2 separate regions of the Homo sapiens genome follow, and region 2 is linked to region 1. A link means that fine-mapping ties the variant in region 1 to the plasma level of a protein whose gene starts in the linked region. Region 1 holds a variant in brackets. A gene starts in the other region. All regions are shown on their reverse strands.

Region 1 (2,999 bases):
TCTGAGGGTGGTTGGGAGGATTAGACTAGCTAATGTACGTGAATTGCTTAGAACAATGGCAAGTAGAAAGCCCTACAGAAGCATTTATGAAATACACATAAGAAAACAACAGGCCCGGGTGCACAGGCGCTCACAAAGGCACACACAAACACACACAACTGCGCCTCCAAGTCATGCACCACAACTTCAGACACGTGAACTCACACAGGGACTCAGACACTCACAATCACACAGACCCAGATGAACACCATGCCCAGAGTCCCACAGAACCCTGCTCTGACACATAGACTTACTCTCAGGACACCCACACCCATCACCCTGTCTACCCCTCAGGCCGTCACACACCAAACTCCGGGGGTGGGGTTGGTGGTAGTTCTATCCCCTGGCATTCGTCAGTACTTGGAGTGTCTCTGCAGAGGGTGTTGAGCTCCTCTGAACCTCAGTTTCCCCATCCACAAGGCCTTGTATGGGGCTGTCTTTGGTGGGGAGCCTTTGCTGGGGCCAGAATTGTGAGGGTGTAGGCACAGGTAAGTGGGAAGTGCTGAGGACCTCAGAGGAAGGGAGAGCCTCTGATGATGGGATTCTCAGGCAGATGTTTCTTCCAGGCCCTCTCTTTTACAGATGGGGCAACTGAGGCACGGAGAAGGACAGCCCAGGCTTACACAGGCATCATGCAAAGGTGGAGGAATCCCAGGCTCATTGGAACTGCCTGGAGCTCTGCCCCGTGTAGGGAGCTGCTGCTGGTCAGGAGGAGGAGGCTGCCTGACTGCCCTGCTCTCTAGCAGGCAGATACCCCCACTGGGGAGCAGGGAGAAGAGGCTTTGAAGTTAGGCGCACAGGCAGACAGCCTCCCCAGGAACGGGCTCGTCCCAGGGGATGGGGTTGCTGTGGAATAGGACTGAGGGGCTGGGACAGCCCCCTTCCCAGCAAGTGGGCCCCAGACCCTGGCCCAGGAGGAGGAGGTGCTGCCCACTCTGTGTCTCCAGCTTTCTGCCTTTGCCTGTCTCCCTATTTTTTTTGCTGTTCTTAGTCTGTCCACCCCTCCAGCTGGGGGGATCTCTCCTCCCCACCCGGCTTTGTCTCTGTCTCTCCTCTCCCTCTAGCCTTCCCTACCATTCTGCTTTTAGGTCACTCTCAGGGAGTGACAGTCTTTCCAGGGGTCTCCTCACTTCCCCACAGGATATGCTGTGCTTCTCCTACAGGGGTGCACTGTGAGGTCAGTCTCCTTCAGGGAACTCCATCCCTTCTCCATGCCACACCACACCCACCTCCTTGGGGAAACAGCTTCTACCCTGGGTGAAGCCAGACGTGTGCATGTGTGTGTGTGAGGGCTGGAGGGGGCCCCTAAATCCTACCCCCTGCCTGGATGATTCTGACCTCAGACCT[A/G]CATTCCCTGTGTCCGGGACTGCAACAAAACTTGCAGAAAACAGAGGTCCCCAAAGCAAAGTCTGTGGGAGTACGCAGCAGGGCCAAAGCCCAGCCTTCTGTTGGGTCACACTGTCATCTTCCAGGGAGAAACAGCCATGGTGCTCACAGAAGCAGAGGATGGTGAAAACTCAACCACAAATTGCCAGATTTGGGACCCCAAACGAGGCTTCAGAAATAGGGAGGCTTCAGGCAGCTGGAACCCACAGTCCAGACATCCCAGAGACAGCAGGCACCCAGGATCCTGGATCAGAGGGGACTCTCACCCAAAGTTCGAACTACTGGGGGAACTCAAGACTGCGTGCCTTAGACCTATCCCGCGGACCCTAGGGTAAGCCCGCAGCCTGTCCCGGAGTGTTGGCGGCGGGGGACTCACCAGCGCGTACGCGGAGCTGAGCACGGGGCAGCAGAGCAGGAGCGCCAGGCCGGGTGCGATCCGGGCGGTCCCCATCGCCACCGCCTAGGGCCGCGTCCCTCGGGGCAGCCGCCGCCGCCGGCCCTGGTGGTGGTAGGGGGTGCAGAGCTGCGTCAGGCTGGCCGCCCCGCCCACGCCCCGGCCTATGGGACCCCGGCGTCCCGGCGGCCCGAGGCCCCGGGGCCCGGCGCGGGGCCCATGCGCTGAGGGCGAGCGAGCGAGCGAGCGAGCGAGCAGCGCAAAGGAGGGAGGGAGGGAGGGACAGGAGGGAGGGAGGGAGAGCCGGAGGCCGGGCGGGCGGCGGGCGGGCGCCGAGCGCTGCGGAGCGGCCCGTCTGCCTCGGAGCGAAGAAATCACATCCATATGGCCGGGCCCCCCGCCCCCGGCCCGCCCCCCGCCCCCCTCCCGCGCCGCCTTTTCTTTCTTTCTTTCTTTCTTTCTTTCTTTTTTTTTCTTTTGGGGAAATGGGAGCTGTGGCTTCGCCCCACGCCCAGTGGGGGGAGGGGGCGGGGGAGGGGTCGGGGTCGCGGTCTGCGGGGGGCGCGCAGGACTGTTATTTTTAGCTCCGCGACTTTCGGCGTAGGGAGTCAGGGCCGGGCAGGGGGCGCGTTCTGAGCCGCGCGGGGCGTGCAGTTAGGGGGTGCGATCTCAACTTTGCAGCCACACTGAGCCCTTAGGTGTTCCGGCCGCCAGCCCCCGGCCGTTCGGCCTCCTGAGATCCCAGACCCTCGGCAGCCGCCTCCCGCACCCCTTCCCCATCCTTGGCCAGAGCCCCGCTTGCGCCTGTGCGGCTCGGGCGCGCAGCGGCCCCGACGCTCTGTCGGTCTGCCTGTCTGTCAGTCCGTCTCTAGCTCCCCCGGCCTTGGCCTCAGTTCTTCCAGCGGCCCCAAGCTCCGTTTCGGTCACTCCCTCGCTCCCTCCCTCCCCCTTTTCTCTCTACGAAAACATTTGCAAGTTTCCAAAAAAGCCACCGAGCCGAGCGGCGCGGGGCTGGCGACTCCCCCGGGTTCCGAGGAGGCGCCGCCGACTGACACCGAGACAGAGCAGCCTGGCTGCTCCGGCCAGGCCCGGAGTCGCTCCTCCCCGACTCCGGCCACTTCCCCTCGGCGCGGGTCCCCAGCCCCGACTTACTCCGAGCGCGCCGCCGCGGCCCCCGCCT
Region 2 (2,500 bases), not on the chromosome of region 1:
CAGCTCCCCGCAGGCCTCCTTCACACGATAACCTGCCGCCCAGAGAGTGGGAACTTCGCAAGTCTGCGGGAGGCCCCTTCGGGAGCCCACCCATCACTCCACCCGCGCCCAGAGCCCAAGCAGGGAGACACCAGCTAAGGGGACTCAAATGGCCCATGAGCCCCACGGGACACAGCAGCCCCATCAGCCATGAGCAGAGCTGCTCTGGGGAAAATCGGAAAGTTCTGGAAGCACATGGGGCCTCCTGGGACACCTGGCCCGGCTCTGGTATGTGCCCCCGAGCCCATGTCTCTGGCCACGGTGGGCCAGCCACGTCTCTCAGACCCACCCCCTGTGCAGTGTGACTGTGAGGGTCCCCCAGGGTGAAGAGTCCAAGCTGCTGGCCTGGGGGTTCTGCCCTCACTGTCTGCACACCTAGCCCCAGGGCTTCATCACACCCATGGCTGTGGGGGCAGAGAACACAGGGGTGTCTGGGGCAGAAGGGGGCAAGAGTGTCTGCCCTCGGCCCACAGAGCTGGCCCGCCAAAGGGCTGCACCTACCTGGACTGCACTTGGGGCAGCACTCGGAGCCCACTGGGTACTCGTCCTCCTTGCAGGACGGCAGAGCTGGGGCGTAGCAGGGGGCTCCCAGGAAGGTGAGATACAGCACCTAAGGGGGTCAGGACAGGCATTGGGAGATGCCCTGGCTGCCCTGTGGGCTCTGCCAGGCTTGGCCCCACAGCCTGAATCTCCCTCTGTGCAATGGGGAGGAGCGGCAGTGCCTGGTAGAGAGGACAGAAGCGGGCCCCAGGCCAGGCTCATGGAACAACCTTGCCGACCGCTGGAGCCCGGGATAGGGTGGGGACCGCCCCTCCTCCAGCCCTGATGACGCTGCCTGGCAGCGCGGAGCCCTGGGAACTGGAACTCTGCCCTCGCCAGGGACCCCACACCCCACACCTGGGAGCATTGAGCCCACTGGGCAGACAACCTGCCGGCCCCCCTGCTGGCCTAGGTTGGACCTGCTGACCCCTGAAGAGCCAGCAGGGGCAGCCAGGGATGGGCCCCAGAGGCTCACAAGCCAGACAGTGGGTGACAGGCTGATCAGGGCCACATCGGGGAGGGTGGCTCTGCCGTGGCCTCGTTCCTGGGCTGGCTGATGGGCAGTCGGGGGCCCCTGATGGGGATAGTGGCTGGACAGGCAGGAGTGCCACATGAGCATGGAGAGTATCCCCACCCCACCCACCTGGGTCCAGCCCCCTGCTGCACACTGATCTTATCACCTGTCACCAAGGTCAGGGCTGCCGGGGAGTTGGGTCACCTGCTCGAGGGCCCCGCCCAGAGACGCCCAGAGACACCCAGCCCCCAGAAGTGCCCACATCCGGCCAAATGGGGGCTCACCAGCTGCCCGTGGACGGAGTGGTGAGTGGGGGACACACGCAGGAGGAGGTCTGCTGGGTAGGGCTGTGGCTCTGCTGCTCACCCCACTGTGGTGAGCCCAGTGCTGGGGGTCTGGGTTGACCCGAGAGCCCCAGGCAGCAGGGGACGGGCTGGACGCCGGAGCCAGCAACGGCCAGGACAGGGGCATGGGGAAGAGATCTGTGGGAGGCCCTGGGGTCAGAACTGGGATCTGCGAGCAGACGGAGAGGAGGCTCGGGGGCTCACCAGCCTCAAGACGTCGGTTTTGGGGGTGGATCTCCAGGGAGGAGGCCCCCAGTCTCCAGGAGGCTCCATGCCTCAGGCTCAGACCGGCAGCTCGGGAACCCAGCTAGCAGGATGAACTCCAGCAGAGGAACTCAGCGCCATTGCTGCGGCTGTGGGCCAGAAGAGAAAGAGAAAGAGAAAGAGAATCCGCCTCGGTGTGACAAGCTGTGCCTCAGAACCCGAGCAGCAGGAGAGTGGGCAGCAGGGGGTGTCTGGCAGCAGAGAGGGGCTCAGGCCTGCTGGGTGGAGCGGCGCTGGGGGACACAGGTGGGCCCTGCGGGAGGCAGGAGCTGTCCAGGCAAAGCCGAGGGGAAGGGCCGGTATGAAGGAGGCGCCCGATGGGAGGGGCGAGTTCTCCCCCTGCACCATTCCAGTCCACTCCGGGTTTCCTGTAGAAGGGGGAGCCCCCCAAAGTCCATCTGTGTTTCCCCACCTCACTCACACACTCAGGGACCCTCGGCTGCTCCCCGGGGCGCTGACTGACATTTTTGCCGAATAAAGGGGCCCTGTGGGTTTCCTGTTCCCATCTCAGCTTCTGCTGAACAGGGTAAACTTCCCTTCCGAATAAAACCACCAGAATGCGGTCTGGCCAATTTCAGTCATAGACCCACCAGGCCTGTGTCCCTGCGTGAGGGGGTGGGAAAAGCCCAGAGTGCCCCTACCCGTCCCCTGGGAGGGGTGGAAGGGCAGCTCTTGCTCCCCCTGCAGAGACGCTGCGCGGACTGGGAAGGCTGCCAGCCTCGCCCGGTCTCCCTGTGGACCCTGCCCTGACCCCACCCCAGCTTCCTGGCTCCCTGCACCCCACTGGGCTTCCCTGCCC

Which allele goes with the higher level. Positions count from the first base shown, and alleles are read on the strand shown. Strength reflects both the effect of a copy and how common the allele is.
As copies of A replace G in region 1, the plasma level of the protein whose gene starts at base 2,004 in region 2 goes up (weak association).

The links. PIP is the posterior inclusion probability: the model's chance that the variant is causal. Protein levels are from antibody-based Olink assays in UK Biobank. Linkage for the fine-mapping came from a reference panel and not from the study's own genotypes, which makes the PIPs less certain.
Region 2: TNFRSF14 starts here. The variant in region 1 is fine-mapped to the plasma level of the TNFRSF14 protein (UK Biobank, PIP 0.96).

The regions. Positions count from the first base shown.
Region 1 is chr3:46,882,437-46,885,435 of GRCh38, reverse strand. It overlaps PTH1R (parathyroid hormone 1 receptor), which reads right to left. Exons shown (of 16, transcript NM_000316.3): 3 at 1,802-1,924. The coding sequence starts at 1,876. Among named protein-coding and RNA genes, the nearest start is that of PTH1R, 6.2 kb to the right of the region's middle. The variant A/G (reference allele first, on the strand shown) is at 1,387.
Region 2 is chr1:2,555,875-2,558,374 of GRCh38, reverse strand. It overlaps TNFRSF14 (TNF receptor superfamily member 14), which reads right to left and starts at 2,004. Exons shown (of 8, transcript NM_003820.4): 1 at 1,642-2,004; 2 at 541-649; 3 at 1-32. The coding sequence starts at 1,710. TNFRSF14-AS1 (TNFRSF14 antisense RNA 1) reads left to right here and starts at 1,364. Exons shown (of 7, transcript NR_037844.2): 1 at 1,364-1,398; 2 at 1,679-2,500.